4 separate regions of the Homo sapiens genome follow, and all the other regions are reported to be linked to region 4. The links are microRNA targets in miRTarBase. Many come from high-throughput screens and were not tested one by one. Region 4 holds a microRNA gene; each other region holds the end of a gene's coding sequence.
The links. The annotated mature microRNA hsa-miR-548ag reads AAAGGUAAUUGUGGUUUCUGC and lies in region 4 at 4,668-4,688, shown strand. An mRNA with a match to its seed (bases 2 to 7 or 8) in the 3' UTR can be bound and repressed. Matches are read on the target gene's strand: a 7mer-m8 pairs with bases 2 to 8, a 7mer-A1 pairs with bases 2 to 7 and ends in A, and an 8mer does both.

Region 1 (8,160 bases), not on the chromosome of region 4:
GGGAGGCTGAGGCCGGCAGGTCACTTGGGGCCAGGAGTTCAAGACCAGCCTGGCCAACATAGTGAAACCCCATCTCTACTAAAAATAAAAATTAAAAAAAGTAGCCAGGCATAGTGGTAAGTGCCCGTAATCCCAGCTACTCTGGAGGCTGAGGCAGGAGAATCACTGGAGCCCGGGTGGCGGAGGTTGCAGTGAGCTGAGATCACACCATTGCACTCCAGCTTGGGTGACAGAGTGAGACTCCATCTCAATTAAAAAAAAAAAAAAAAAAAAAAGGCCGGGCGCGGTGGCTCACGCCTGTAATCCCAGCACTTTGGGAGGCCTAGGCGGGTGGATCACGAGGTCAATAGATCGAGACCACCCTGGCTAACACGGTGAAACCCCATCTCTACTGAAAATACAAAAACAAAATTAGCCTGGCGTGGTGGCAGGCACCTGTAGTCCCAGCTACTCGGGAGGCTGAGGCAGGAGAATGGCGTGAACCCTGGAGGCGGAGCTTGCAGTGAGCCAAGATTGCGCCACTGCACTCCAGCCTGGGTGGCAAAGCAAGACTCCATCTCAAAAAAAAAAAAAAAGTCTGGATTGGCCAGGTGCTATGGCTCACACCTGTAGTCCCAGCACTTTGGGAACCCCCCAGGCAGGCAGATCACTTAAGCCCGGGAGTTTGAGACCAGCCTGCCTGGGCAACATAGCAAGACCCCATCTCTACAAAAAGTTAAAAAAAAATTAGCCAGGTGTGGCGGTGCACACCTGTAGTCTCAGCTACTCAGGAGGCTGAGGCAGGAGGATCACTTGACCCTGGGAGGTCGAGGCTGCAGTGAGCTGAGATTGCACCACTGCACTCCAGCCTGGGTGACAGAGTGAGACCCTGTCTCAAAGAAAAACAAAAAGTCTGGGTCGGGCTTTGATTTTGACATTCCCCTACCTGTGTCCACCTCCGTCGACAGGGCTGGACGTTGGTCCCTGCAGTGGCCTGGCCGGTCTCTGGGCACCCGTAACTGCTGCAGCCCAGAAGGGAGCCCCTCCCACCTTCCCGCAGACCTGCGCCCCACCCAAGGGGCCCGGCCGCCGCTCACTCGGGGCCCCCGAGCTGAGATGGGGTGCTGGCTTCATTTTTTTTCACCTCTTCCACAAATACTGACCAAGGCTTTTGTTCAACCAGACCCTGGAACTGGGGGACCCAGTGGGGGACAGGGCAGATGACCTGTCTTCAGGAACCTTCCCGGGGTGGGGGTGCACCCATGGGTGACTGCAAGAACGCTAACACCAGCACTGCGGGTGCAGACCGTGCTCTGGGGGGGGACAGGGGCTGGGTCAGGGCAGGCGTCTGACCATGAAGGGTGGCCTGGAGGGAGAGTGATCCAGGCTAAGTGGAAGGCAGTGGAAAGCCCCGGGACGGGGGCGGATGGGGGTGCGGGGCAGAGCTTCGGGGACTCCAGGGGCCCAGCCTGACTGGAAAAGGGAGATTGGGCAGGGCCAGGGCTGGTGGGGCTGCAGCTCTGTGGGGCGTCTGCATTTCTCTTCAAGGGCAGGAGGAGCTTTTCTGACTGGTGTTCGGCAGGGGACTGAGGGATGAAGAACAAATCAGGGTTTTTAAAGGAGTTGACTTGAAAAGGTTGCAGGCCGAGCGCGGTGGCTCACGCTTGTCATCCTAGCAGTTTGGGAGGCCTGTAATCCCAGCTACTCAGGAGGCTGAGGCAGGAGAATTGCTTGAACCTGGGAGGCAAAGGTTGCAGTGAGCTGAGATCATACCACTGCACTCCAGCCTGGGTGAGAGTGAGACTTCGTCTCAAAAAAAAAAAAAAAGGTTATTGCAGCACCGAGGACTATCGCAATGGGGGATCTCTGCTCCCACCACAGGGTCTACAAGGAGCTCCAGGGTTAGGCAAAGGCTTTTTGTTTTTTTTGAGACGGAGTTTCGCTCTTGTTGCCCAGGCTGGAGTGCAATGGTGCGATCTCTGCTAACTGCAACCTCCACCTCCTGGGTTCAAGCGATTCTCCTGCCCCAGTCTCCCAAGTAGCTGGGATTACAGATGCCCCCCACCATGCCTGGCTAATTTTTGTATTTTTAGTTGAGAAGGGGTTTCACCATGTTGGTCAGGCTGGTCTGGAACTCCTGACCTTAGGTGATCTGCCTGCCTTGGCCTCCCAAAGTGCTGGGATTACAGGTGTGAGCCACTGCACCCAGCCTGGGTTTTTTATTTTATGGGGGTGTGAACAAGGCTAGAATCTGTGTGGGGAGTTGGGCGCGGGGCCTGAGGGGCAGTAGATAGAGGGGTTCCCCGGGCCAGCCTGGTCTCAGGGAGTGGGAAGTCACAGGCTGGCCCAGGCTGAGGGGGTCCAGGTCCTGGGCCTAGGGGAGGGAGAGCAGCCGAGCTGGGTTTGGTCAGCAAGCATTTTGTTCTGATGGATCCCTGCCGGTCATCGGCGAGGTCAAGGGGACTCAGGGCCTGGGCTGGGCCTTGCCCTAGGTAGACCCGGGGTGGGGGCATCTCTGAGTCTCCCTCAAGTCACATGGGAAGAGGTTTCTCTGCACAAGCAGAACACAGGGGTCAGGGGTTTCTTAACCTTCACTGTTTCCAGGAGCCCAAGGCTCTTTGAGCTCCATGTTGGCACCAAGCATCTCGAAGGAGCCAGCTGGGCTGGGGGCCAGGCGGGCTGGCAGTCACTGAAATGCCACCTGGGAGGGCCGCCGAGGCTGAGGCTGCTCACCATGCTGGTAGCAGCACCTGCAGGGCTGGCTCACCTGTGGCTCCCAGCCCCACCCTCGGATATCACTCAGCAGGCCCCCAGGGAGTCCCCAGATGCTGGTGCAGGTGTGTTGGGGCCTGTCTCACCGGTGACCTCACATGGCCAGTGTCGGGGGTGGGGCAGCCTGTGAGTTCTCTCCTTCCTGTCCCTCGACAAGCCCACCCTAACGGTCAAGTCCGCAAAGGGGTACGCACCTGCCGCAGGGCCATCCAAGGTCCCCAGCTCCAAAAATTGCTTTCCAAATTCCAGCTCCCTTAGAGGGCAGCCAGTTCTCAATTGTGAGGGGGTGAGCTATTGGATTAATTTGCCTTTGAACAGCACTGAGAGGCCTGGGCCTCAACTTCCCAGTAGTGAAGACATTACTACAATGCGCCCGAATCCTTCCAGAACCCATGGGAGGTGGGTGGGCCCTTCCTGCCTGGGTGGTCAGAGTGGGGGGCTCACACAGATCCTGAGCCAGGGCTCTAGGTGACCCTGGTTGCTGCAAAGGTTCCCAGCTGCACCCCAGAATGCCCTGGTCCATCACTGGGCAAGGTCTCCCTAAAGAAAGGGCTGCGGGGAGGGGGGTGCCCAGCCTACTAGGGAAAAGCCGCCCAACCCCCAGTCCCAGGAGACCTGCAGCCAGGAGGCCTCTTTGCTAATACCCTGTGGAGCTGACTGCTCACTCCAGTGACTTTGTATTTCTGGAGCCCTCCCAGCTCCTCGCGGGACTCGGTGGCTCCAGGATAAGACTCAGACTATGGGGCCCACTCAGGGCCTGTCCCCCACCTCCCGTTCAGCTGGGACTGCGTGAGTCCTGCAGATAGGAGCAGCCTTCACTGGATCCAGGACGGAGCCCTATGGTTGCCTTCCCACCCCGTGCTGGGAGGTGGATGAGGGGCTCATGCTCTGAGCCCCGGACTCGCCCCCTTAACTGAGAGGCTCGGGAGTGTCCTGGGAACACAGAATCGGTGCCGCTTCCTCTCCTGCTCTGATCCCAGGCTGGAGAAAGGCTTCCTTCCTGACCTCCCAGGAGCTGGAGCCCCGCATCCTCTCAGCGGGTGACCCCCAAACCCCTCCCAACTTCACCCCTGCAGCTCCCTGGGACTGGAACCTTCCCCCTCCTCCCCGGTGGTCTCCACCTGAACATCCCTGCGCAGGCTGCCTGCCCCCCACTCCCGAGGCAGATCCGATATCTTGGCTCGGCACCCCCACCCTCGAGGGGTGCGTGCTCACATGTGTGCAACCCGCCCATGGCTCACCCCCACCCAGCGGCCTAAGTGGGCTGTCGGTGAATGAATGAATGAATGTGTGAAGGTGGGAAGGAATGAGGTGGCCAAGAGGGGGCCAGGAACGTTCCTATACACAGAACCTGGCGCAGAAGAAAAGAACACAGAACATCAGCGGTAGGATGATTGAGTGTTTCTTTAAAAATAAAAACCCCACAAAAAAGCCAGAACACCCTACCCAACCCAGCCCAGTGTAACAGGTTAGCCATTAACACAGAATAAAGAAGGTCCCAGCCACACACGTCATTACTCGGCAGAGGGTGTCCAGCCTGGTCGGCCGACGTCACAGTGGATGGCCCTGCGTGGCTGGGACACAGACAGGGAGCAGGCATGGCACCTGCGCCACGCAGAGCAGCAAGGCTGAGCATGACCACTGGAAATAAATAAACATGGTGCCGACAGCATCTTTAAATTAGTAAGACGTTAGCACAAAACAAAAAAGCACAACGACTGAAAATGCACTTGCTTGTTGTGGTGGGTTGTGCTTGAAAACACCTGAAGCCCACAAGTGGAAACCGCTGGGGACGTTTGTCAGTGGAGTGTGGAGAAAAAGGGACGGAAAAATCAAGTCTTCTGAGACAGTCCCCTGCGGTGGCCCTGGTCCCTGTGGAATTCCAGCACAGCAGGAGGGGGAGGGGGAAGCAGGCCTCAGTCAGCACCGCGGGACACGGCCCCTACCTTCTGAAGTGGGGTCCCCAGGCTGGAGTGGGGCACACAGCACCAAGGATCACAGACTGGACCCCCCACCAACCTTCTGCGGAGGAGCTCCCACCCCAGCTCAGACGCCCAGAAGAGACCTGCGCAGTGTGAAGACGGACCCCAGCGGCCCCAGCCATTTCACTAGCAGCTACTTTCCACAACAGACGCTGGCAGCCCCCATGCTCGCCCACAGCCGCAGCAGCCAACAGGCAAGTGCGTGCCGTCGAGAGGCCGCCGGCTCCCTGTATCCTTGAGGCATGTCCACGTCCCAGAGCAGGAGGTTGGAACAGAACGGCATCCCGAGGACCCCTAGCCGAGGCGGGAAGGTAAGAGGCTGACGTCGTGCGTGGGCCCCGCCGGCCCCAGTGGGAAGCAGTGGTGCGTGCCTCCAGGGAGCACTTCTCCTGGACCCGGGGCCGTGGCTGCCTACGATGTCCACTGCCTCCTGGATTCACACAGCAATGCACCAGGCAGGTGGGGCACCAGCTGCTGTCCTTATTTGCAGCCAAGAGAACAGGCCCAGAGGGAAGAGGTCTTGCCCAACACAGTCAGTCCACCTGCCTGCTGGTGGTCCTCGGCCTCCAGACCGTGGGCTGTCCCTTGGACGAGTGGAATTCGTCCCCAGGAAGGATGCAGGTCCTATGAGCAGACGCTGTGAAGTCTGTCCATGTGCAGCGGGAAGCAACGGGGCAGGGGTGAATAAAGGTCTTCATTCCTCAAGCAAGAGAGACGGACATCTGGTCCTGAGTCCCCAAACTGTTCATCAGGTTTCTCCGGGCCCACTGGATGGTGAGGGGGTCCCGGTGCCCAGGCGGGGGCGGCAGGCTCCACTGGGCACTTGCTGAGAGCTTGCGGCTTGAGCAGCCGCTGGTCAGTGAAGCCGTGTCCGGCTTCGTTGGCTCCCGGCTTGGGACACTCAGGGCTGTGCCACAGGCCAGCTCCTCCAGCCACAGCTGAGCACTGGAGTGACGCTGGACCACTTGGCTCCACCTCTGGCTGGGGAGAAGGGAAGCCCGGGGCCTGAGAAGGCAGAGCCCCCCGAGCTCAGGAGGGATCCTGCGGGGTCTTCTTGTTCTGGGGGTCCCTGGCTGCTGCCATGGAGGCAGCGACAGCTCAGGAAAGTGGGCCGCATTGGCCAGGCCTCGGCTGCCTCCCATAGCGAAAAAAATTCACGGGAACAACAGAAACAAGGGGTGCCCTAGTTCCCTCTCTGCAGGCGGGTGGGGACTGGGTGAGAGCCCAGGGGCCTCCAAACGCAGGCGGCAGAGACGTGAGCAGTGCTTGGCTCTGTCTCCTAGACAACGGGCATCAGGACCAGGACAGGACATGAGCGTGACAGGGAGAGCGGGGAGGTGCCTAGGCCGGGAGTGGGAACCCAGCACCGGCCAGAAGGGGCTGCCGGGCGGTACAGAGGCCAATGCATTGGAGGCTGAGGGTAGCTGCGACCTCTGGGGCAGGGGACACTGCTGTGTGGAGCCCAGGGTGGGCGCCCACATGGGTGCCTGGCCGCGGTGTGTCTGCCTTTCTTGTCTCTGTTTCTAGAAGACTGAAGGACAGGGCTTTGTCTGCATGAACCAGAACTCAGCCTCCAAAACTGGACACAGAAATAGCCAAGAGGCCACACTGCCCAGAGGCCAGGCCTGGTGAGCTAGGGGAGATGCCGGCACCCCCCAACCCTGGGGCTGTTCCCTGGCTCAGGATGGTGTCTCGGGGCTAGGATTATGGTCAGGAGTCCATCGGGGCCTCAAGCACCTCCTGGGAGGAATCACCCACCTTGCCCAGATCCCCCACCCCCTCCCAGTGCCACCCTACGGCTGAGTTTCCACTCTGCAAACCCTAAGGCAGAGACATAAGCCCACAGGGTTGGTTTTCACGAATGTCACAAGCCCATGTGTCTGGGCAGCTGTCCGGCTTCAGTGCAAGTCTGTGGTAGCAATGAGGTTCCAAGTCTCAGTAGCTCTGTTTGCCCAGGGTCTGGGCCCTTGGGGCAGGAGAAAGGAAGGCTCCTGCCTTCCCCCAGCTCCTTAAAAAATCATCTTAGTGGTGTCAAGTTGACCCAAAATTTAAGTTTAAAAAAAATATATATATAAGTAAACAAAGGAGGGAAGGGAAAAAGGGCCCAAGGAGACCAAAAGCTGCTCCTGGGCAGGAGCACAGGCACACCTGGGTCCCTGGCCCTCAGTTGAGGGATGAGATTCGTACCAGAGTTTTCACAGCAGCCTCCACTGCCCGACCTGGGAGGGACGGCGAGGGACTGGGATGGGCAGCTGAGCTGTGGGTTGCGGGGAACCGGAGTGGGTTCGAGGAGGTGATCTACTTTAACTGGCCTCTGCGCATGCTCCTCCGGCAGCCACTCGGCCTCCTGGCTATGTCTCCTGGGGGACCACCTGCATGAGCTTCTGACACAGGACGGTCGTGGAGACTGTCAGGAGAGAAGACAGCTGTGTTAGCCTGGGGGCTGGGTAGGCACCCGTGGGACACGGGGGCGTGAGCTGGGGCTCCCCCAGCCCTGCTGTCACCAAACCCAGCGCCGCTGCCCAGCGCTGGGATTTTAAGGAACCTTCCCTTGTGTACTTGCGCATGTGGGTGCCGGGTGCCCGAGGCGCTGTCTTCAACTGAAATGCGGAAGTGCCACATCCCACTCGGCCCACCCCTCGCCTGCTTCAGAACCCTGGGGAGGCAGAGTGCGGCCCCTGGGGCACACGAACCAGGCCCTGGTGTCTCAGCAAAGTGCAACGGGGGGATGACAGGCCTTCCTGCAGGTCCACACCCGGGCCACCACCTGGACACATGCCTGGACTGTTCACAGCAGGCAGGGCCGGAGGGGCCAATCTGCTAACGGGTCCTCGGAAGACCTGTCGCGCCTGGGACTGTCTACAGAGACATCACTCTGTGGAGGGGGACTGCTTTCAGGATAGAGACGGGGGTTTGCTTTAAGCTCTTGGTGTCCTGAATGACAGTTAATGCAGATCCCACTGCAAAGCTTGAGGCAAATGTTCTACCATGACCCTGGCGGTGATCAGAGTGTGGGGTAGGGGTGGGGGGTCTCCCTGCCTGTGTTGCTGCCATCCCGGGAATTCTCCAAGCCACCCAGTGACATGGGGATCAGCATGTAGGCCCGCAAGCACCCCGGCCTTTTTCTACGAGCCTGGCCACATTTGCAGGCGCTGAGGACGGGGTCCTGAGCTTGGTGACAAAGCACCCCTGGGGCTGCCGCTGCACACAGGGCCGGGGGGCGGGTTTCTCCTTCTGCCTTTTTTTTTTTTTTTGAGAAGAGTCTCGCTCTGTCGCCCAGGCTGGAGTGCAATGGTGCGATCTCGGCTCACTGCAACCTCCGTCTCCCGGGTTCAAGTGATTCTCCTGCCTCAGCCTCCTGAGTAGCTGGGATTACAGGTGTGTGCCACTACACCCAGCTGATCTGTGTATTTTTAGTAGAGACAGA
Region 2 (8,160 bases), not on the chromosome of region 4:
GTGTTAGATGCTAAAGACACAAAGATGAATAAGACACAGTCCCCATCCTCAAGAGCTTGTCGTTTAATAGAGGAGGCTGATAGTTGAGTAATAATATAACAATCAAAGTATGTACAGGGTGAGTATCCCTTCTCCAAAATATTTGGGACCAGAAGTGTTTTGGATTTTGGATTTTTTCAGATTTTTTCACATTTTGGAATATTTACATATACATAATGAGATATCTTGGGAATGGGACCAAGTCTAAACATAAAACTCATTTATGTTATACCTCTTATACACATAGCCTGAAGGTAATTTTGTATAATATTTCAAATAATTTTGTGCATGGAATAAAGTTGTGATTGCATTTTGACTGTGACTTGCCACATGAGGTCAGGTGTGAAATTATCTACTTGTGGTGTCATGTTGATGTTCAGAGTTTTGGATTTTGGAGCATTTCCAGTTTCGGGTTTTCAGATTATTGATGCTCAACCTGTATATACTATGTATTTATTTTTAAGACGGAGTCTCGCTCTGTCACCCAGGCTGGAGTGTGGTGGCGTGATCTTGGCTAACTGCAGCCTCCATCTCTGGGTTCAAGCAATTCTCCTGCCTCAGCCTCCCAAGTAGATAGGACTACAGGCATCTGACACCATGCCTGGCTAATTTTGTACTTTTTTAGTAGAGTTGGAGTTTCACTGTGTTGGCCAGGCTGGTCTTGAACTCTTGACCTCAAGTGATCTGCCCACCTTGGCCTCCCAAAGTGCTGGGATCACAGGCGTGAGCCACCGTGTCTGGCCTTAATTTGTATATACTAAATAAAGAACGTTTCTGCTTTCTGCCTATGGACACTAAAAGTTGTTTATAATGATGTCAAATGACTATTAATATAAAATCTGGGCCGGGCACAGTAGCTCACGCCTGTAATCCAAGCACTTTGGGAAGCCGAGGTGGGTGGAGTACTTGAGGTTAGGAGTTCGAGACCAGTGTGGCCAATATGGTGAAACCTTGTCTCTACTAAAAATACAAAAATTAGCTGGGCATGGTGGCGTGTGCCTGTAGTCCCAGCTACTTGGGAGACTGAGGCAGGAGAATCACTTGAACCTGGGAGGCAGAGGTTGCAGTGAGCTGAGATCGTGTCATTGCACTCCAGCCTGGGCGACAGAGTGAGACCCTGTCTCAAAAATAAATAAATAAAATAAAATAAAATCTGTAACTTGGTGATGTATGTGCTTTTTTTTTTTTCTTTTAGCTAATAGATCAGTTAAAGCCCGGAGGAAGATTGATATTGCCTGTTGGTCCTGCAGGCGGAAACCAAATGTTGGAGCAGTATGACAAGCTACAAGATGGCAGCATCAAAATGAAGCCTCTGATGGGGGTGATATACGTGCCTTTAACAGATAAAGAAAAGCAGTGGTCCAGGTGGAAGTGATTTTATCTTCTGCTCTTTCTTCTTCCACACATGCAAGGTGAAAGGGTGTGGATTTTAAGACATTAGACTACAAGAGCTGTTTTTGGTTGTCACCTTTATGCTCCTCCATTATAACGTCAGAAATTCATTACATTAAAAATGTGAAAAATGTTGCATGGTCTGCCCTTATTTTGGTTTAACATATATATCTTTGGGAAAGGGAGGGTGAGACTTGGTTGGCACAAAGGCTTTTTTTGTTTGTTTGTTTGTTTTTTTTTTAGAGAGACTTTCAGCTTCAATTCAGTACTTTGTAAGGATTTTTTCTTCATTATCAGCCACTCTGTTTTTATGTTTTTAAATTATTTTTATAGCACTGGATGGGCATGGAAACAATGAGTTTGGTCTGTAAAAGAGGCCAGGCGGAGTGGCTCATGCCTGTAATCCCAGCACTTTGGGAGGCCTAGGTGGGCGGATCACTTGAGGTCAGGAGTTTGAGACTAGCCTGGCCAACATGGTGAAACCCCGTCTCTATTAAAAATACAAAATCAGCTGGGCGTGATGGCACAGGCCTGTAATCCCAGCTACTCGGGAGGCTGAGCCAGGAGAATTGCTTAAACCCTGGAGGCGGAGGTTGCAGTGGGCCGAGATTTTGACACTGCACTCCAGCCTGGGAGACAGAGCAAGGCTCTGTCTCAAAAAAAAAAAAAAAAAAAAAAAAAAAAAACAAGGGGCCATCATTTCCTGCCCTGTTTATTGTACCAACAAGGAGAAAGAAGGGGAAAGATAACGGTCGTCTCAGTTTTCTAAAATGTCAGAATACCAGAGAGGACATTCTACCTCTCAGCTTGGTTTATCTGTTTCAACCAAATCATAGATACCTGACAGCCCATGCCTATTTTTCATTCAGCCTTGTTTAAGAGTCACCTTCTCCCCATTCTATAGAATAGGCCAGCCACTGTTTAAGCTATTCTGGCTAAATTCCTAGGAAGAGGCAAGGATTCTACAAGTTACCCAATGAGTGCCCAGGTCTCACAAACCCACCCAGAGGGTCAGCAGCATGCAGCAACTTTCAGCACAGCATGGTTTATAAAGAATGTCCACTTTTGTTTTATGTCTCAGCATAATCTGAATATTTTGTTTGAAGCCAAGATTTCTCTTTTCCTCCCCTTCCCACTCCCTTCCATGAGAGAGAGTGACATCAGTACATAACAGTGCCATTAGCTCAAATTACTTGAAATTAAATGCCAAAACAAGAACGGCTTTACAGTTTCCTTGTCTTAGCATCTTATTTTTATTTGACATAAAGATTCTTATTTTAAAATAATTAGTTTCTTAATAAGTAAAAGGGGTGATAATAAGTTTAATAGATCTCTCAATGTTGTTTTTATTCTTCACCAATAGCTATTTTCTGTGAATTATACGTGGAGCACAGCCACTGGAAAAAAAAAAAAAAAAAAAAGCATTTTAGTCCAGGCATTTTGGGAGGCTGAGGTGAGCCAATCATCTTAAGTCAGGAGTTTGAGACCAGCCTGGCCAACATGGTGAAACCCTGTCTCTACTAAAAACACAAAAATTAGCTGGGCATGTTGGCTTGCATCTGTAGTCCCAGGCACTCAGGAGGCTGAGGCAGGAGAATTGTTTGAACCCAGGAGGCAGAGGTTGCAGTGAGTCGAGATCACACTACTGCCTTCTAGCCTGGGTGACAGAGCGAGACTCTGTCTCAAAAAAAAAAAAAAAAAAAAAAATTAAAAAGGCATTTAAAAAATTACTGGTTTTTTCAACTGGAATCAGATGTAGTTATTAACAACTAACTAAAACCTTCCTTCACTTTGCTTCTAGTATGGTTTATACAATTACATAATTGTGAGATTATTGTAGTATAAAAGGGGCAAATATGTTACTGAAATTACTGAAATTTGATAAGAAGAGTTGATTTTCATTAGCAACTTAGAAATTTTTCTTTTTATATACAATAAATATTAGTGTTGAACATCTTGCCTATAATTTATAATTTATAATTATGAAGGAATTATAAAAAGGGAATTTTGTTTTTATGACTAGAGGTAGATTTACTGTGAAGCTAACAAAGCTGAAGCTGCAGAGCCCTTGCTTGTCTAGGTTTTCTCTGACCCTGTTCTTAATTTAATTTAATTTAAAAAAGTGTTTTTTTTGAGACGGAGTCCTGCTCTGTTACCCAGGCTGTGTAGAGCAGTGGTGCAATCTCAGCTCACTACAACCTCCGTCTCCCAGGTTCAAGCAATTCTCCTGCCTCAGCTTCCCAAGTAGCTGAGAGTATAGGCGCCCAGCTAAATTTTGTATTTTTAGTAGAGAAGGGGTTTCACCATGTTGGCCAGGCTGGTCTCGAACTCCTGACCTCAGGTGATCTGCCCGCCTCGGCCTCCCAAAGTGCTAGGATTACAGGTGTCAGCCACCATGCCTGGCCCTGTTCTTAATTTTATATTATGCATAGTCTTACTGATTTTTTTTTTAACTTCATAAAAAGGTTCCCCTGTTTTCTAATTATATAAACCTTAGGCCCCCACAAAACCTGAATCCACCTTTGATAAAACCAAACTATTTGTATTAAGAAATTTAAAATAGGGCCAGGTATGGTGGCTTATGCCTGTAATCCCAATGCTTTGGGAGGTTGAGGTGGGAGGATCACTTGAGGCCAGAAGTTCAAGAGAAGCCTGGGAAACATAGTGAGACCTCGTATCTACTAAAAATTTAAGAACTAGCCAGGCGTAGTGGTGTGCACCTCTAGTTCTGGCTACTTGGGAGGCTGAGATAAGAGGATCACTTAAGCCCAGAAGCGGCAGTGAGCTGTGATCACCACAGCATTCCAGGCTGGGCAACAGAGCAAGACCTTATCTTTAAAAAATATATTTAGAATAATTTTTAAATTTATGGACAATTAGTCATCTGCTAAACATTAAATGTATACCTGCTTTTAGGCTGGGCGCAGTGGCTCACGCCTGTAATCCCAGCACTTTGGGAGGCCAAGGCGGGCAGATCACAAGGTCAGGAGATCGAGACCATCCTGGGTAACATGGCGAAACCCCGTCTCTCCTAAAAATACAAAAAAATTAGCCGGGCGTGGTGGCAGGTACCTCTAGTCCCAGCTACTCGGGAGGCTGAAGCAGGAGAATGGCGTGAACCTGGGAGGCCGAGCTTGCAGTGAGCTGAGATCGCGCCATTGCACTCCAGCCTGGGCAACAGAGCGAGACTCCGTCTCAAAAAATGTATACCTGGTTTTCTTTTTGACCTTCAAAGTTTTTTAAAAATTGAACAAATTTAGGCTGGGCACAGTGGCTCACGCCTGTAATCCCAGCACTTTGGGAGGCTGAGGCGGGCGGATCACGAGGTCAGGAGATCGAGACCATCCTGGCCAACATGGTGAAACTCCATCTCTACTAAAAAAACAATACAAAAATTAGCTGGGCGTGGTGGCAGGCACCTGTAATTCCAGCTACTCGGGAGGCTGAGGCAGGAGAATCACTTGAACCTGGGAGGTGGAGGTTGCATTGAGCCTACATTGTGCCACTGTACTCTAACCTGGCGACAGAGTAAGACTCTGTCTCAAAAAAAAAAAAAAAAAATTGAGCAAACTTACATGTTCGCACTATCAGAAAAAAAAAAAATTTCTCCAGGTGTACCAGGAGGACTTTCTAATTTTTCTGTTGTAGATGCTTTTCTTTGGCCATTTGTTCAGTTGCTAAATATTTTTCAGCGTGAGGATCTTCTTAATATTATTCGTGAATTCAACCAATATGCATATGCCAACTAGGCCAGGCACTGTACTAGGTGCCAGGAGTCATCAGCTGTGAATTTGAAACTGACTGCTCTCATGGAGCTTACAGTAACGTAGGAGATGCAAAGACCAAGATGAATAGGCAGTTATAGGGTAGTGTTCAGACTCGCGGTAGGGAGCCAGGCATTGAAGTGGTCAGAATTACATTTCAGAAAGATAACTCTAGCTGTTATGTAGAGACTAGCCTGGGAAGGGACAAAAGTCGAGTCAGAAACAGGAAGTGGTTATAGCAATTCAAGGATGAAATGATGGTCTGCATTAAGGCAGTGTTAGTAAGGATAGAGAGAAGTGGGTGGATAGCTACATCTAAAATACTGTCACTGTTTTCTGGGAATTATCATCTAAAAAGTTCCCTAGTCAACTTCTTGCCAGGCTACGTGATTTCTGTTCTTTCAAACTTTCCGTTTTTGTTTTTGTTTTGTTTTATTTTGTTTTGTTTTGATACAGTCTCTCTCTGTCACCCAGGCTGGAGTGCAGTGGCATGATCTCTGCTCACTGCAGCCTCAACCTCCTGGGCTCAAGCGATCCCCCCTGCCTCAGCCTTCTGAGTAGCTGGGACCACAGGGTGTGCCACCATACTCAGCTGATTTTCTTGTTTTTTTTGTAGACAAGGGGTTTTGCCATGTTGCCCAGGCTGGTCTCGGACTCCTGAGCTCAAGCGTTCCACCCACCTCAGCCTCCCAAAGTGCTGGGATTACAGGCTTGAGCCACCAGCCTCAAACTTTCTTCAGGATTACTTTAACTCATTATAATACTTTCCTAGGAACCTTCTCTTGTGTCTCACCAGCTTTCCACCTTTCTTACTGAGGAATAATCCAGAGCTAATTGCGGTGCTCTGATGAGGGTGAGATCCCATTTTTGCTGAGGCGATGTGGCAGAAACTGTATTTTTAAAAATGAGAATTAGTGGACATGTGGAATTCTAGTACCAAGTAAAGATCCAAACTTGAATGTAGACTTGAGTCTTTTTACACTTGGAAAGATGTCACTTGTAATTTTGGTGGATTAATAGAAGGGGAGACAATGCCAGATCTATAGGCCAGAGACCTAGAATCTGTGGAATTGTGTTCATGACTATGGACATGTAATAGTTGTATTAGTTGCTACAGAAAGTTAATAGTTCTTAAGTATTATTTTATTTTAAATAAATAATTTATATGTAAAAATATTTTGTTAATCTTCTGGTAAAAGTTTTATTTTTATTTATTTATAGATATTTTTGAGACAGAGTCTTGCTCTGTCACCCAGGCTGGAGTGCAGTGATGCGATCTTGGCTCACTGCACCTCCGCCTCCTGGGTTCAAGTGATTCTCCTGCCTCAGCCTCCCGCATAGCTGGGACTACAGGCACGCACCACGAGGCCCGGCTAATTTTTGTATTTTTAGTAGAGACGGGGTTTCACTGTGTTGACCAGGCTGGTCTCAAACTCCTGACATCAAGTGATCCACCCGCCTCAGCCTCCAAAACTGCTGGAATTACAGGTGTGAGCCACCACACCCAGACTATTTTTGTTTTTAGTAGTCACAAGAGTTAGTGTAATTGGTCCATCTTTAGTTTGTGAAACTGAGGAATGTTCAAGTTTATTATTCCATAAGCTCTTTGTTTATTGATGTCTTCTTAAAGTGCCTTGCATCTATGAAAAAGATGTTAGGAATTGACTGCATTTCCAAGACTGACAGTATTGGTGCTAAGGGATCCAATTGATCCCGTGTTCCATATTCTATATTGTTCCTTTTTAATCTCTTTACATATGTTCCAGTATTGTGACATACATTACATCCTTAAAAGCAGGGATATATTCTGTTACTTTTGGAATTCTTTTTGTCTCTCATAGTGCTTCGTACAAAGCAAATTGTACAACACTTTTATTACCTTGGAAGATCCATGAAATTATTAGAAAACGTTCATGGATTTTGATTGTTGTTTCCTTATAGTATATCTTTTCATTTATTCTTGGTAAAGAATGTATAAGACTAAATGTTAGTATCATAGAGTTAATAAAATCTAATAAATAATTAAATTATGTATAATTATATACTAGTAGAAATATATACAGTTATTAACCTAATGAATATATTTAGCATAGTATATAGCAATTTTAAAGAGCCTTTCTAAAAATTTAGTACATACTATTTTTTATTGTAAATGATCTATACATGTAAGTCAGATAAAGAAATGGTCATACAGAATTTTGAACATTGGGGAAAATTTAATAACTTGAAAGTTACATGGATTTTAGAGTATTAGGCTTTTAAAAAATTGTGCACGCGCTGGCAGCAAGTTTTTGTTTTTCCCTAGCACCTCTAATTTTAAAATTCAGGTCTATAAACCTAATTTCTTTTCCTTTTTTAAAGTATTTTTTAGACAGAGAGGATAGTTGGAAAAATGGTACCTATGTTGTTGAGGGGGCATTAATTTATTTACAGTATACTTAATGTCTTGCAGCAGGTAAATTGTAGTAAATTATTATTATTATTATTGTTTTCTGAGATGGAGTCTCGCTCTGTCGCTCAGGCTGGAGTGCAGTGGCGTGATCTCAGCTTGCTGCAACCTCCGCCTCCCTGGTTTAAGCGATTCTCCTGCCTCAGCCTCCCGAATAGCTAGGATTACAGGTGCATGCCACCACACCCGGCTAATTATTTGTATTTTTAGTAGAGACGAGGTTTCACCATGTTAGCCAGGATGGTCTCGATCTCCTGACCTCATGATCCGCCCGCCTTGGCCTCCCAAAGTGCTGGGATTACAGGTGTGAGCCACTGCCCCTGGCAAATTGTAGTAAATTATTTAAAAATAACAATATCTTTGGCTTGGGCATGGTGGCTCACACCTGTAATCCCAGCACTTTGGGAGGCTGAGGTGGGCAGATCACTTGAGGTCAGGAGTTCGAGACCAGCCTGAGCAACGTGGTGAAACCCTGTCTCTACTAATAATACAAAAAAAATTTAGCCGGGTATGGTG
Region 3 (8,160 bases), not on the chromosome of region 4:
CCTAGCAGCTGTGTACTTTATTTCAACCAAATTATTCATTTCTTATTGCTAAAGTAATTATGCCTCATTTTACTCGTGTATATAATTACATGTAATTTTTTTAAAAACTTTACTTATGAATGAAGGCTGTAGAATGAGTCAGAAGTTCTGAAGAATCCAATAATGTTTTCCAAAAATAAAACTCAACATTTTAGATCACATCAGTACCTATATTAAAATTCTTCAGTCTGTGAATTCACAGATATAATTAGAATTTTTGAGAATATATAGAGTTAACAGAGCTCTTATAAAGACCCATAGGTCTGTTATTGTTTTTGCTAAATATTATTCTGTCTTTAACTTATCAATAAGAATGTATGCTCTGACATACATTGTGCTGCATTTGTTGTATATGAAGATAGGATTGGTTCTTGTTGCTCACACCTATAAGCAGAAAAATGCACTAAGGCCATGGAAGTATTCAGTGCTAAATCAAGAATGATATAAAATAGTCTCAACTTAAAGGCCCTTACCCAAATTTGAAAATGCTGAAGAATTAACTTTAAATTTTCCGTCAATACAGGACTTTTTTTTTTTTTTGACCATGTGACATAGAAATACAATCTTGTTTGTTTTATTTGTTGGAGAAATGACTCTTTTGGTAGGGGAAGAAAAATGTAAGCTGATTTCCTTAATAAGAGGTGATATTTTTGATTATGTGCTCTTAGAGTTAAGACTAACAAAAATGCTAGTTTGTCAGGTCATTATATTTGAAAATGAATCCATATAAATGAAATTCAAGTAGTAATTTTAGAATGTGATTTCATCCTGTGGGCAATCCTAGAGATTCTTACAAGTTAAGATACAAAGTAACAATTGGTGATTTTATCCTTATAGCTTCTTGAGTTTCTGTTACTGGATTAGTCAAATTTTTTAGAATTAAAGGAAAGCATTGACTGAGTTCTTTTTACTCTATTTATGTAACAGTTGTGTTATTCACATTAGAAAATGTAGTAGCGAGTATTTCTTTGATTATGAATAATAGCTGAAAAGTCTACCTTTAAAGAACTTAATTGGTTTCACTAAGATTTTTGCCTTCTCTCAGGTCAAAGATTCTAAACTGCCTGCATATAAGGATCTCGGTAAAAATCTACCATTCCCTACATATTTTCCTGATGGAGATGAAGAGGAACTGCCAGAAGATTTGTATGATGAAAACGTGTGTCAGCCCGGTGCGCCTTCTATTACATTTGCCTAACATCTTTGGACGTGGCAGAACCTTACATATTCTGTGAGCTTCGATGAGCCAGAGTGATATCATAACCACCAGAAATCATACTCTCCTTTCTTAGTCACAACAAAATCACACATGTCATCTTTGTCAAGGGCATAAATATATCATTCATACCCCCATTAAATTTTGTTAGAAAAATTACCACATTAAATATATGAGTTAAGTAGATTGGATTTGCTGAAATTGGTGTTGGGCATATTAGCAAAATATTCTTAATTTGTGGACTCGATTCTTTTTTACTACATATTTCCCAAGTTATCTTAAGATGTCTGTAAATTTAACTTTTATTAAAGTTTTGTCAATCTTTGTGAAATAGTGGTTGTGGAACAGTAGAAAACCATATGGGGACTATAGTGCAACCTATTTGGGTAAAGAAACCATTTGCTAAAATGGAGAAAGTAAATAGATTTTTATTTAAATTACAGAAACATGTTAAAGGCCGGACAAAGGAAAGACAATAAAATCATAAATTATCGGTCCTGTTTACATTTTTGTTGGGAGAGGTGATTACTTTTTAGTTTTATCACTCAATTATAAGATCAGTGTGTTTTGGTTTTGTTTTGTTTTGTTCTGTTTAGGCAGGGTTTTGCTGTGTTGCCCAGGCTGGAGTGCAGTGCAGTGGTGCGATCTTGGCTCACTGCAGCCACGACCTTCTGAGCTCAAGTGATCCTTCCACCTCAGCCTCCCATGTATCTGGGACTATAGGTGCCCACCACCATGCCTGGCTAATATTTGTATTTTTTTGTAAAAATAGAATCCCACTATGTTGCCCAGGGTGGTCTTGAACTTCTGAGTTCAAGCTTTTTACCTTCCATGGCCTCCCAAAGTGTCAGGATTACAGGCGTGAGCCACTGCACCCAGTCTACCTTTCAAAAAGAATTTATAATGATCTAAGATTGTATGTTCAGCAAACTTTTATTAATCATGTATTAATCAAAATGCTAATGGTTTGTGGGTTTCTTTTTAATTGTATGAAATTAACATGTATTTACTAATGGCTAGTCATGACAAATAAGCTTAACCATGTGTATAAGCAGACCTCAGTTTAAATACTTGATTTCCTCTGAACCAGATTCTTAATTCACATCACCCAATACGTTTGTTAGTCATAGTGTTAGATTTCCATGTGCTATACTGTCCTGGTTATATCACGTTTTTCACTTCAAATCCAAAGGTAGCCACGTTTTTTTAAAGTTTTTATTTATACTTTATCTTATTCCATTAAAAATGTATGGCAATTGATAGGAAATCCACTCAATAAAATAGAAAAATAAGAGAAAAATATTTAGGATAATATAAATTAGAATAGGTGGTATTTTGGGGGAGGGAATAGTGTCAATGTCATATAGATGAGCAGGCTATGCTGTGCAGAGTTGTTATATTCAGATAGTTTGGTTTTGAGCTTCCTGGGTGCTAAAGTAAAACATAACATTATTTTTTATGTACTGTTCATTATTCATGAGTTTGATTAGTGATAATAATAGAGTGTCATAGTCTTTAACTGGAGTAGATTACATTTAAAACCACCACACCATATTTGGTTAAAAAAAAATATCAAACTAGAAATTTGTTAACTTGTTAAAAGTTTATCTCTAGTAATCATCATATACAAGGGTAAAATGCTAGAAGAATTCTTTTCAGGGATCAAACAAGGATACCCTCTACAACTTCTCTTCAACAGTATTCTTGGGTGTCCTAGCCAGTGCAGTAAGACAAGTAAAAGTAATGAGATAAATTGGAAAGTAGGAGCAAATCTCATTATTTGTAAGAAATATTTACCTAGAAGATGAAAGGTAGACAACTGACAAGCTATCAGAACCAATAGAGTTGAAAAAGGTAACAGTACAAGATTAATACACTAACATATAGCAATATTTTATGGGAAAAATGGATATTTATTTATAATAGCAATTAAAAATCACCTAGGGAAAGCCTAACAAGAAATATGCTAGAGTCTTATGTTCTTTTTTGAAAGATAGATAAGAAAACTTCAATAATGGAGCAGAATATCATGGCCATGAATGGGAAGGTTATATTGTAAAGAATTCATTTGAATCCTGTTTTAAAACTCTCAATAGGACTTAGAGCTAGTCAAACTGATTCTAAAATTCATGTGAAAGTGTAAATTCAAGAATAGCCACTACTTAAAATGGTACACATTAGATATGCCCCCATACTATGCTTAGGAACTTATACGGACATACCTTAGAGATATTGTGGGTTTGGTTTCAGACCACGGCAATAAAGCAAATATCACAATAAAGCAAATCACAGAATTTTTAGTTTCCTGATGCATATAGAAGTTATACTGTACTGTAGTCTATAGTGTGTTTCAATAGCATTGTATCTTTAAAAATATACATACCTTAATTTTAAAATATTGTCAGAAAATGCCAAAGATCTTCTGAGCCCTTAGCAAGTTGTAATCTTTTTAGTGGTAGAGGGTCTTGCCTCAAAGTTGATGGCTGCTGACTGATCAGGGTGGTAGTTTCTGGAAGGTTGGGTGGCTGTGGCAGTTTCTTAGCATAAGGCAATGGACTTTGCCACTTGATTGACTCTTCCTTTCACAAAAGATTTCCCTGTAGCATGGAATGCTGCTTGATAGCATTTTGCCCACAGTAGAACTTCTTTCAGAGTTTGAGTCAATCCTCTCATACCCTGCTACTGCCTTACAACTAAATTTATGGAATTTTCTAAATCTTTGTTGTCATTTCAACAGTGTTCACAGCATCTCCACCATAAGTAGATCCAATCTCAAGAAACCTCTTTCTTTACTCATCCATAAGAAGAAACCACTTTTACTCATCCATAAGAAGCACCTCCTTATCTGTTCAAGTTTTAGCATGAGATGGCAGCAATTCAGTCACATCTTCAGGCTCCACTTCTGCAGTTCATTCCTCCACTGGAGCCTTGAACCCCTCAGAGCCACTCATGAGAGTTGGAATCAACTTCCAAACACCTGTTAATGTTGATATTTTTACTTTCTCCCATGAATCATGAATGTTCTTAATGGCATCTAAAATGGTGAATCCTTTCCTGAAGGATTATGGCAACTTCATATATTAAGGACTATGGCAACTGTAACCTTACAAAACATATTTCTTAAATAATTAGAGTTTGAAAGTCACAATTACACGTTTATGCATGGACTACAGAATAGATGTGTTAGGCATGGAAACAACATTATTCTTGTACATCTTCATCAGAGCTCTTGACTAACTTAGGTGCATTGTCAGTGAGCTGTTATCTTGCGAGACAAATGGACAGTTATTTCTGGGAGAACATAAAATCTTTTACCTGCATTATTTGTGAAAAAGGAATCAGTATATGAAGGTAGCCAGTTGCCCAGACATAAGATTTTTTGACGAAGGCAGGCAACCTTCTGCACTTAAAGAGCCTGCCCCAAACTTACCATCTTCTTTCACTATAGTCGGTGGTCTGTGGATCTGTTTTTGAGTTTTAAAATAGCATTTCTGATCACCTTCCAGGATTACAAGTATGATCCCTGTCTTCTAGAATCAGGGAACAAAACTTTCACTCTCACCCCCCAACCCCAACCAGTCCCCACTGCCAGCAGCTTCTACAGGTACATATCCTTTGAAGAGGATCCAGACTCCATTCTGGCAAACTGAGTGGCCCAGACGAACTGTGTCCTTCTCTCCAGTTGTGGAATACCTAAACCAGTCTGCCTAGTCCAACACTACAAAATGTGATTTCCCAAGAACCTTAGGGTTACTATTTCTGGCTACAGCACAAACATTTTGCCTCAGCATCTGTCCTCAAATGTTCAGCTCGGAAATGGAAGTCTGCCTACTATAGATAGGGAGTACATGGTCCCAGTACTCTCCTGCTCAACTCTCTGGATCCCAGGCAGTACTAGAAGTCTGCTCTTGAGCAGTGCTGACCACTGGACAGATACGGTGGCAATTCACTTCTCAGCAGTGGAGCTGTCTTGGGCCTGAGTTGAGCTTGAGTTTGATTTACTGTTTTAGATTTTGTCTTGAAATGGAGAACCTTTTTGTAATTAAACTTCATTCAAATTAGACATTTGTTCCAGCATACTTGGTACTAGCTATTAGGAATAAAATATGGAAATACTGAACCTTGGATAATTCTCTAAGTCTTATAGAGGCCAACAGATTAAGGAATACTTTCAAGAGTATCCCTTACACTACTTAGACTACTGGTCATCCTTCCTCTCCAAGACCTTTTTCCTACCTGCTAGGGTAGCCGAAGCTGAAATGCAAATGTTAATTAGTCCTATTTCCACAGTGGCCCCTGGCATGGGTAAATTGGATGATGCCAGCTGTCACAAACATTAAGTTGTAAATGAAAATATTTCTTACAGCAAGTATAAGGATATACTTTACAAGAATATTAAGCATTTCAGAATCAGTAGTGCTTTTGAGTCAGTAGTGCTTTTGCAGTCTAATGGTGAGGTACAAATCTGCTTTTCAACTTTCCTCAAGGGGTAGAATATAAGGATGACCTTTACAGCTAATTTCCAAAGGTAAATTTGCAGATGGGACCTGACCATGTTTCAGGACATATGGAGAAATGTGTATAGAACTATGGCCTGTTTTTCTAGTGTAAAGAGTATTAGAATACAGTCAAACACACGGAAGCTGAGTTCGTACTTAGGGTTCCTCATATGCAGAATGAATTCCGTTAGTCTGTAGGATTACTTGCCTTACATCCAGTAGCTTATTTTGTTGTACTAATCAAAAAACCCCTCTTTGAGAAAGAGTGTGTCAGAGTGAAGTCTCTCCTGATTCCAGCAAAATTGAACCTACGCCCTAAATCGTTGCCCAAAGAGAGACTGTTGGCTGTGTCACAGTGAAAACCCATGATGGGAGGAAAGAGCAGTGTTCAGATTGCTGACTCTGAACCTGTTATTTGGACCTCTGGGATGAATACCTTTAAATGTTGGTGTTATTCCTCATTTTTGTCAGAGTAGAAACACAGTGTGGGCTTCCTGTGGCACTGAGTCTTGCAAACTTGTCTTCTAGCCTGGAGTGTGATGTGCTTCTACTAGCTACATTATTTTTCTATGGCTGATTCTTTTCCCTTGGTAGGATGTGTGTGATTCTAAAAATGCCTTTTACTGCCTGTTTTGCCTGAAGGTCACCACTTGGGAAGTTTTCCCCACTTTTGCAGGAACTATGGCAAGAAGAATGTTATGTTTCTATTATGGTACTTATCATGTTACTGCTTATCATGCTTTTATGAACAGTTTTATAATGGAGCACTTTCGTGATGAGGTAGGGCATGTTGCTGATAACTTACTGAACTGCTGAACCAAGAGAGTGAAGACAGGCAGACAGAAGCAACTCACTATGCTATGAGGCCACCTTGGGCAAACATCTTCAATAGCTTTATAATCATGTGTTACTTCATGGCTACCTGTTTTCTCTATGGGAAGAAGTTCTTCACATGAGAGTTTATTTTAGTAGTGATAGATAAAGCTTCTACTCTCTTCAGGGACTTTTCTTAAAGTTGACTTTACTATAACAACAGACAGTTCTTCAGTTTTCAGTTTTATTGCTATTTCTGCTAGAACACCTCATCCACCAGCTTGGCCCCATAAATGATAGTGGTCTCTCAAAGCATGTCCCACCAGACAAATGAAGACTGTCATTCAGACTTTGCCTCCAGCAATTACCTAGGATTCCCTGGAATAAGAGGACTCAGTGTCATTATCCCCTCCAGAAAACAGCCAGTCCTGAGCATGCAGGGTTGCCAGCCTCAATTTCATCGTTTGCTTTTCTGCTTTTAAATGTTTGCAAACAATAGCAGTCCATGTCACATGTTTTATTCTTTTTAGATTAATGAGGTGGCCTGTTCAAGTTAGACAGGCCATATTAATTTCAGCGAATGCGGTCCTTAGCACCACAAAAGCAAACAAATGATTTTAACTCAACTGGACAAAGAGTCTTGGCATAGTAGGTGCGTAATTGTTGGTTTTTGGATTTGACTGGAGAGTGAGAGTTGTGATTTTGATTCTCCAAAAGCAGACTATATGAGCACCAAGTATATTTTAGGTCATTTAGAAAGTTTGTTGTTTGAACAAATGAGGATAAGACATCCATCAGTTTTTGACACTGCACCAAATCTGCTTGATTTCAAAAGGAACTAACTAAACACTCCATCACAAGAGTCCTGACAAAGATGCACGGATGGCTATATTAACGAGACTGTGTCAAAATGAATAATAATAAATGGCTGTCTTGAGAATCCAACGTAAATTTCCTTATCTAAAATAGTGGTTTGTTTAAATGATGAAGCAAAGATGGCATTGGAGCTGTTGGCTGACTGTCCCTTTTTTTCTGCTAACTGCAGAAGCACGGAATCTGATGCCCTACTTTGTGGGGTAATGGTGTGCTTATCTCCCCCTCCTCAAACAGAGTTTGGCACGTTGCTAATAACAGCCAGCCTACTGCTAAAATATCAATGACAGAACAGAAGAAATAGATATTTAGGAAAACATAAATCAAAGCTGAGGAAGTAGGCAAAAAAAAAGCACTGATAGAAAGCAAATAAAGAAAGATCTATAATATTGGGACAGGCAGCATCTCCCTGCTCACATGGTAATTTTCTTTAGCCAGTAACCAACGAGGATGCCTGCCATGGGAAGAAGGTGTGATTTTGTGATTTAATGATCCAAAGCCCATTTTTAGACACCACTTAGCCATAAAGAGAGGCCCAAGTTTCTGTGGTCCAGGAGTCATTGAGATAAGTATTTATGACAAGGTCCACCCAAACACAAGGGGACACAAGAAGGGGGCATGTCAGGCACAGGGAATTTTCACAGTGGCTTACAAAGGCAAGTCTTACTCTTACCTAACACAGTAGTTCTCCACACTGGCTGCATGTTAGATCCCCACAGA
Region 4 (8,160 bases):
TAATCGGCTGAAGTCGATGTGCAGAAACTCATCAACAGAACTTTCAGAAAGGAGAAGCGAAAATGGGCTGCCCCGAAGATGAGGTCTTGCACCTCGCCAAGTGGCTCCTAAAAGGCCACTTATTGGAAGGATCCCTGTCTTCTAAAGAATTGAAATTTCTTGGCCGGGCATGTTGGCTCACGCCTGTAATCCCAGCAATTTGGGAGGCCAAAGCGGGTGGGTCACCTGAGGTCAGGAGTTCAAGACCAGCCTGGCCAACATGGTGAAACCCCATCTCTACTAAAAATACAAAAATTACCCGGGCATGCTGGCAGGCACCTGTAATCCTAGCTAAGGAGGCTGAGACAAGAGAATTGCTTGAATCTGGGAGGCGGAGGTTGCACTGAACCGAGATTGTGCCATTGCACTCCAGCCCGGGCTAAACTCTGTCTCAAAAAAAAAAAAAAAAAATTTATCCACTGTGAACAACCAAAGTCACCATTATCATGGAATTTTACATTTTTCATTTTGAGGGGGTGGGGCAGGGATCACACAACTAAACAGACACAGAATAAAAGGAGTATGACAGGAAAACGGCCGCAGCAAAAAGCTAAGCAGGATCCAATGCTAGAGGGTGACAGGCGGCCACTGTCCCAGGACGTCTAGGGAAGACTCCTTCAGAAAGGCGAGGTTGGAGCAGAGGCTGGGAGCTGAGAGAGTAAGCCACGAATCTAGGGCAAGATGCCCCAGAAAGGAGAAGAGATGTGCAAAGATTGGAATGTCAGGTACTGGAAGGAAGCCAACACCGCTCGACAGGATGAGGGAGAGGGGCCGGCAGGGCAGGGAGGGGTCAGGGGCAGCCAGATCACTGGGAGCCTGTGGACCATGGCTTGGGTGTCGGATAGGGTTTGATGAACAGCCCACTGAGGGTCCCGAGAAGAGGGTGATGCTGGACTAGCTGCTGAGTAGTGGGATGGCTGTAATAGCATGAGAACATTTCAGGGAGCTGTGGAAGCACAGGGCACAGATGATGGTAGCTCACACTAAGGTGGGGAGAGCAGTTGGATGTAGACGACTTTTGAGGATAAATCTGATTTCAAGAGAGGAGGAGATAGGATGTCTTCATTTCTGCAGAATCTGCTTTTAGAGACAAACAGCAAAACAAGGCCAGCTAGATGGTTCTGTAACTTGAAAGGTAAATCTCTGGATGCTGGGGTCCATGGCCCAGATCATCCCTTCAAGACCAAGCCCCTGATGTCCCTCTGCAGGGCTTCTGGCTGCTGTCAGCTGACAGCTATATTTCTCTAGGCATTGCACCTCCCCAAGACAATGGCCTCACCCTAGCCTATATCCCCTCCCCGGGACAACACAGGCTCAGTGGCTGGTCTACTCAGTGGTAAAAAGGCCCAGCCATGCTGCCTCAATTTGAATGAAAAAGAAGTGCCTTCCATCTCCAGGGTCCCCTTGGAGATTGGCGAGGCCTCCTGGGCAACTGCACTGCACTTTAGCTTCTCCCTTTGCCCAGCCCTTCTCCTCCACTGTCGGGTGTTGCTGAGAACACTCCCTGTGAACCTGCCACAGGAAAATATCCACCTCCCAGTCTGTTTTCCTGAAACCTGACTTCAGATATAATCAACTCCTCAGCGGCTACAATGCAGGTAGAGGCCCATCTAATTACATCTTCTGATGGAAGGTGTTGGTGGGGAGCAGGGGGAGATTCACATTTCAAATGGCAAAATCTAAAAAAAGAGGAAAAGCATCTCATAGCTATAAATGAATAAGAAGCACCTAAGATAAGTTTTCAGATGTGATTCAGTGGTAGAGAAGAACAAGCTGTAGAACTTTCTAGTACATGGCTAGCAGGGCTGAGTAAATAGGATGACTTGTAACAGAGCCAAAAGTGTTTGGCCATCACAAAGCTCTTTGACAAGATCTGAAGTCCAGATATTTGGCCACTCATTTCTGAGTCATGAAAATCCTAAATGTGGTTGAATGTTCCTGTCCTTTATCCCTGCTCCCAGGAGCATCTTCCTTGTTCCTTTTGTAGTATTCTTCAGGGACTGACTCTCCACCCCCGAAAAATGGTGTGCCCTGTATCACCAAACCATGTGGGCAGTGTGGCCTCATTGGGTCTGGGGGTCTTGTTGTCCTGTAAGTGGGCTGGGGAGCTCTTGGGAGACTGAACATGCCAAGCAAATGAGAGTCCTGCTGATCACAGTGGCATGGATGTCCCCAAATACTCGGTGGAGAGCAGGAAGAAGGAGTTGTTCATAGAGATGTTATTTTCAATAACAGAGAATAGAGGGGGGCAAGAGGACAGGTAAGAAGCACCTGTCAGTGACAAGGGATGGGAGAGCATGGGGAGAACACAGATATCAAGGAAAATCAAAGATCTGCAGGGAAAGCATTAATGCTGAAACCCAAAGCCGCCTCCTCCAGCTTGTGGCTCCCAGCAGAGAGCAGGTCAGTTTCACACCACTTTTCTTCTCTAAGCAGCAGTGATCACTGGTGCTAGAGCCCTTGACAATGGCTTGTCCAGGGGAGGCCCTGCCCTTGGCCTTAGACGAGACCCCCAAGTGCTATTTGGAAAGCTGGGGATTTGGGTTTCACATCCAGGAGAAAGGGCCCTGTTCAATGGCCATAGTTGGATTAATGCTTAGGGCTGTGGTGATGGAGGGGAGGAGCCAGCAGTGTGCCTGACAGAGCAAATCACCCGCCTCAAGGGATTCTGAAGGAAAGGAGAGAGCCGTTAAAGAAAGCACGGGCAGCATAGCCTGTGCTGGAGTCTCCTGGGATCCAGACCAGGAACACACATTTTTAACAAGATCCCCAGATGATTCTGGGGCACACCACGTTCGAGAACCGCTAGATGAAGGGCTCTCTCCCATCTTGTGAGTCTTCACCTCTTCCCATAAAAAACCGAGATTGTTTTGTTCTTCTCTCTCTGCTCTCCCTATTAGGATTACCTTAAGCCACGGATTTTTGTCATAATTTCTATCCAAGGTACACCACCCCTTTGAGAATTTAACCAACGAACGAAACCCCCAAATTCCATTTCAAATCTTTCTTATTTATTTGCTTCAGGAAGGTAGGCCCCAATTGGCCATTAAGAAAGTGTGGTGTCATTTACTTAACGGGTCCTCCGGATTTATCTAGCTGGCTTTCCAGTTAAATGCAACCAGAGGTTTTCATTCAATGTCACAGTACATTAAGCTAACAGTTTCATTTCTTCCCAGACCTAAAGGAACAATGTATTTATTAAAGCATTTTGATCCTTTGGAGACAGATTAATCAGAAGCTTGTGTCAGTTTTGTATGATAAAATGAGTCAATAAGCAGAAATGGGCATTGACATTACATAAACTGAACACGAGTGGTACAATGCATATTTGTGGTGTCACAGAGAAAAATTAGGAAAAATTTTGCAGTATTCCATTATCATTATTAAACGATTACATCTCAGTTTTCAGGCTGTGTGCAGGTGGGGGTGTGTTTGTTTGTATGTATTTGTTATGGGACAGATCTATTTTTTAAAAAAGAATAGTGGATGAATTTGAACATGGACTTTGGAACTAAAGGCTAATGCTGTAAGACGTTTCTCCTTAGCTTTGCCATGGCTTTGACGGCCACAGTTTCAGTCACAGTGTCAAAGCAACCACAGACAACACCTAAACAGATAGGTGAGGCTACTTTCCAATAAAACTTTATCATACTGAAAATAATAAGCAGTCAGCACATTGGCCTAGAGAAATGAAACAAACAAAAGAAGCTGACATCTGTTTGTCTCCAAAGGAACAATCTGGTTTTGGATCTCCTTATCACAAGTCTGTTTATTCACTGGCAGTCTATTTTCACCTTGGATTTTAGTATTTTTTAGTATTTTGAGTATTTCAGTATTTAGCATTTAGTATTAGTTCAACTTTCAGGAATTAATTCGGGAAATAGGTTTTTTGTGTTACACTTCTTGTAATTAGAGACTCTTCTGGGCAGATGTTTCATTCTAATGTACCCCTGTCCTTCTGGGAAATCATAGAGATGGTAGTTTACAGCCAACGGCTTCATAGTGGAGAACGGTCATTTGTTTTAAACACTAGTCAGTCCCTGACATTTTTCTCACTTTTTAAAAAATTAAACAATTTGAGTAAAATTTAATTGTGTTAAAATGGAGATTAGCATGATCATTTAATATAAGTAGGGAAAGGTCTTTTATTTTGACTAGGGAACTCTGAAATTCAATAAATGACAAAGCTAATTAGATACCAAGGGCGAGTGTCTGATTTGTTAATCCTGTAACTGAAATGAGACTTGCTGGGAACACTATCAAACTGGCGGTTTTGAACTTCCAAAAAGCGCATTCCTCCTGTTCCTAACTTAAGGAAAAACAAATTCAGACCGAGTGTTACTATAGAAAGCCGAATCTCTCTCTTGTTCTGCTAATAATGAATTATTATTCATGCTCGAAGCCAAAATTATTAACCTCTTAAATTATATGCATCAAAAGGAGATGACTCTATCTAAAACCAGGAACAAAATTAGATATGGGTGATAGTGTCTCTGGCTGTCTAATGACAACCCGCTCCCTTCCTAATTTAATTAGCCCACTCTCCGGAAGCAGGAATCACCAAGCTGAAGAGCTGTGTGTGAAGGCTTCTCCGTAAATGTGAGTCAAACAACGTATTCGGTTGGTGCAAAGGTAATTGTGGTTTCTGCCATTGAAAGTAAAGGCAAGAACCTCAATTACCTTTGCAGCGACCTAATACACGCCCACCATGGGTTTCCTCCTGGGGACACACAGCTGTTTAGCAGCCCAGCCTTCGCTTTTAGTTAGGAGCTCAGGGAAGGAAGTAGGAGAAGGCTGGGAGAAACAGAAAGAGAGAGTTTAATCCATCTGGAATTCAGGCAGCCCCTTCCCTTTCTATGGATAAACCACACTGGTCCTCCCTCTGCAGGTTGAGGCGGAATCTGTGCACCAACGAATAGTGACAACAAATATCTGGCTCGCAAAACGCTTTCACAGATATACTGTTGAAGGCCCATGAACACTTCATCCAGGAGTTATTATTGTGCCTAAGTTACAGAGGGAGAAAAAGAGGCTTAGAGAGTTTGGGGAGTTTTTGGGGGACCATAAAGAAAATCCCAGAAAATCTAACGCAGCTGGGTGCAAAGACACTGGGTACATTTTAATCACAATTGGGTTTGGCCAAGCGCTCCCTGGGTTCAAGTGTGCTGGTGACAATGACTTAACAGAGTCTGCCTGCTCATTTGCTTGTTTTCCAGGCAATTGCTTTCATGGTGTCAGCAGCTCTCACATCAGCGCTCTGGGCCTTTCTTTTTCCTCTTGGTTACAAGGCTGGATGCATTACTGTCCTGGACTAAATTGGAGTTGCTTAGCAAGCAGGAAGACAAGGGCGGGGAGGGTTCCTATCCAGCCAGCAGCTCTCAGTGCTTGCCAGAACACAGCACCAGCCTTTTAACCTGAGACGGTGTCGTTGTTGGAAGCCTTGGATTGAAGCCACTTCCAACAGCACACCATCTCCTGATCACAGGAAGCATCTGTGGGCTAAGGACTGAAGCCTCTTTGGCACAAAAGTCACAAAAATGCTCTCCAGTTATGATGTGCGAAAGTTCTATATTTTGTGCAATATAAAGCAACAGACATAGGAACAGGTTTACTGAGACACAATCTCTTTGAAGAACAAGTTCCTGAAAGAAAGCTGAAAGTTTGCCATCAAGCAAACCAGCAGAATTTGTGTTTTTATAGAAATTACATATCTGGGCAGAACCCGAGGAAGAGCAGCAAAGTCACTGCATCCCTTGGCTCCTCCCAACGGGGCTGGTTGGCAAATTAAAAACGAGATGAGGAAGGGTTGGGACACCACATACTCCATCTGTTCCTCACAGTGCAGGGCTAATATATGACCAGGCTTTGGTGGGAAAACAGCCCAGGCACACGCTGCCTGTCATGTCCCTCTGTGGGCAGAGGCCAACAAGGATCCAGACCTCTGGACTGGAAAGGCAGATGTGGAAGAAGTGGAAGAACTGTGACATCCTCCAGCGTTTTGTCCTACAGGGCTGGCTGTCTCTTTCCCCTGTTCAGTGCCCATGGATCAGACACAGGCTCTGTATTGACGACGCTGTGAGCACGTAGGCTTCATCATCATGTCAACAGGTCCCTCTTTCCTCAGCTTTTCTTCTTTATTTGCTGTAAGAGCATAATTAAAACAATAAAATGCCTCCTGGATATTTAATGATGTGACACCAACACTGGTGATACATGGTGTTACAGATACTTATTAGAGACCACACGCTTTACACCCCTTTCTTTATGTCATTGGATACTTGAAAGGGCCCTCTGAGGAAGAGGGCGTATCATAATCATAGGACTAACCCATAGGACCCAGTTAGTCTGGAACCTGTTTCCACCTTTTGCCGTGACATAATGACACATTGTCCCTTTGTGCTCTTAAAAGCACCCCAGTTTGAAAAACAACATGCATGGTTACCCTATTGTGGCCACACTTTGTGTGCCAGGAAGTTGAAGACCAGAGGGGATAATTGCCCAGAGATTCACAGGGTAAGAGGGGCCAGGCTTGCAGTTTAGCTCAGGGGTTCCTGGTGTCACAAGCAAGACCCTGAGCCGGGAATTGTGCTCCCCTGCATGTCCCATGAGGGCGTGTGAAGCAGGGTGGCTTGCAGACGATTGTAGACATCCAGGAAGGCCCACCTGCAGATGGCGAAAGACAAGCCAGAGGGTCCTGAGAATCCACATTTCAACAGAACTAAATAAAAAGCAAATGACAATTTTGAGAAATTGTGATAGCGTGCAAAACACGAGCAGCACCCACCTGCACGGCCTCATCCTTGCCGTCCCCCCATCTGGCTCTGCACTGGGCTCGGGGCTGGATTCAGCCATAGGGGAGCTACACCTGCTCAGACTACCAGCCAGGTGGAGAAATGGGGGGGAAAAGTGTTTTAAAGGCTGTTCCTCTTTCACAAAACACAAAGTCCTACTTAGGAGAAAATAAAACTTTTGATGGACTTCCTTAGGTTTCTTTTATGGTTTTGTCTTCTTTAATTTTGAATTGTGTATGGATGAGTGAGGGGTCCTGTGTTCTTTCCCTACAGTGCACATTCTGTAGGTCTTCATGAAACCCAACCTGTATCTCAGTGAAGGGAGAAAATCCTAACAAGAGGAATTTGTACTCCACAGAAGGTTGCGTCTGCGTCAACTCAAGTCAGTTGGTGAAGGCTCCTCAGCCCATCAACAGTGAGCATGGTAGAGCTCTGTGTGCCCCAGCTGCTCTGGCTCAGTCTGAGGACTGCTGATCCAATGGCCGCACTCAGCGGGACACGTAGCCGACCAAAGGGTGTGGAGGAGGCTCCCTCAGGGTGGGGCCCCAATGAGAAAGGCTATCCTTTAAGACAGGACACATAAAATAACAGAGTTATCAGTGGCAATGGGGCATCTTGCCTTGGAGTTTGTATGTTTGAGTCCATAACTGGCCTTTGAACAAGGCAGGGTCTCCTGCTTTAGATTGTACCTGCCTAATTCAAGACAAATCCAGCTGAGGTGTGTCAGGGCCTCCTGCTTCCCAGCTGGGGCAGTGACTACACAAATACAGGTTGCAGTTTGCCAACTTGTGCAAAACTATGTGACTTTCAACTACATTTTAACTAGGAGAAATTGGCAACGTTTTGAATTCTGTGCCTAAACCTGGAGTTGACTTACTGTTCCACTTGGCATTAACGCTGCATCATTCAAATGCATGGGAACACCTACTCTGAGAGACGCTATACATTTTTAAGGTGTTCTATCTGGAAATGTCAACACAGAACTACATGGATTTTCTCTAAGTAATTAATTTATTACCTTGACTATTGCTCAGGAAAAAGCAAACACTAGAAAGGAGCTGATTAAAAACAATTTCTTCTCAAGAAAACATTGAGAAGCCAGAAAGAGAACTCGATGCATTCCTTGAGCCACTAAGAACAATCCACATGATCTGTCAGACACTACCAGGACACCCCAAGTGTTTCCCAGGGAGGGTTTCTCTGGACAAGTCTGAAGGGCCTCTGGGGTGTCCACCATTGCTCTGACACATGCATATGTGATTTCCCGCAGGATCCCTGACATGCCACTCCTGTCTCAAGACCCCAGATGATAGACACAACTTCTTTAGCT

Region 1: the mRNA of SLC7A5 is a reported target of hsa-miR-548ag. Seed matches in the 3' UTR shown: 7mer-m8 at 5,042-5,048.
Region 2: miRTarBase lists PCMT1 as a target of hsa-miR-548ag. The part of its 3' UTR that is shown has no 7-base or 8-base seed match.
Region 3: the mRNA of MRPL3 is a reported target of hsa-miR-548ag. The part of its 3' UTR that is shown has no 7-base or 8-base seed match.

Annotation. Positions count from the first base shown.
Region 1 is chr16:87,825,886-87,834,045 of GRCh38, forward strand. It overlaps SLC7A5 (solute carrier family 7 member 5), which reads right to left. Exons shown (of 10, transcript NM_003486.7): 10 at 4,138-7,140. The coding sequence ends at 7,085. Among named protein-coding and RNA genes, the nearest start is that of MIR6775, 4.7 kb to the right of the region's middle. RefSeq lists enhancers at 1-171, 2,129-2,718, 3,897-4,484, 5,663-6,251, 8,146-8,160 and a silencer at 2,727-2,796.
Region 2 is chr6:149,800,966-149,809,125 of GRCh38, forward strand. PCMT1 (protein-L-isoaspartate (D-aspartate) O-methyltransferase) reads left to right here. Exons shown (of 8, transcript NM_001360452.2): 7 at 1,235-1,451. The coding sequence ends at 1,414. It overlaps LOC107986660 (a long non-coding RNA gene), which reads right to left and starts at 4,374. Exons shown (of 2, transcript XR_001744415.1): 1 at 4,338-4,374; 2 at 2,160-2,828.
Region 3 is chr3:131,455,800-131,463,959 of GRCh38, reverse strand. It overlaps MRPL3 (mitochondrial ribosomal protein L3), which reads left to right. Exons shown (of 10, transcript NM_007208.4): 10 at 1,085-1,748. The coding sequence ends at 1,237. Among named protein-coding and RNA genes, the nearest start is that of SNORA58, 19 kb to the left of the region's middle.
Region 4 is chr20:60,559,898-60,568,057 of GRCh38, forward strand. It overlaps MIR548AG2 (microRNA 548ag-2), which reads left to right and starts at 4,665; the gene lies at 4,665-4,728.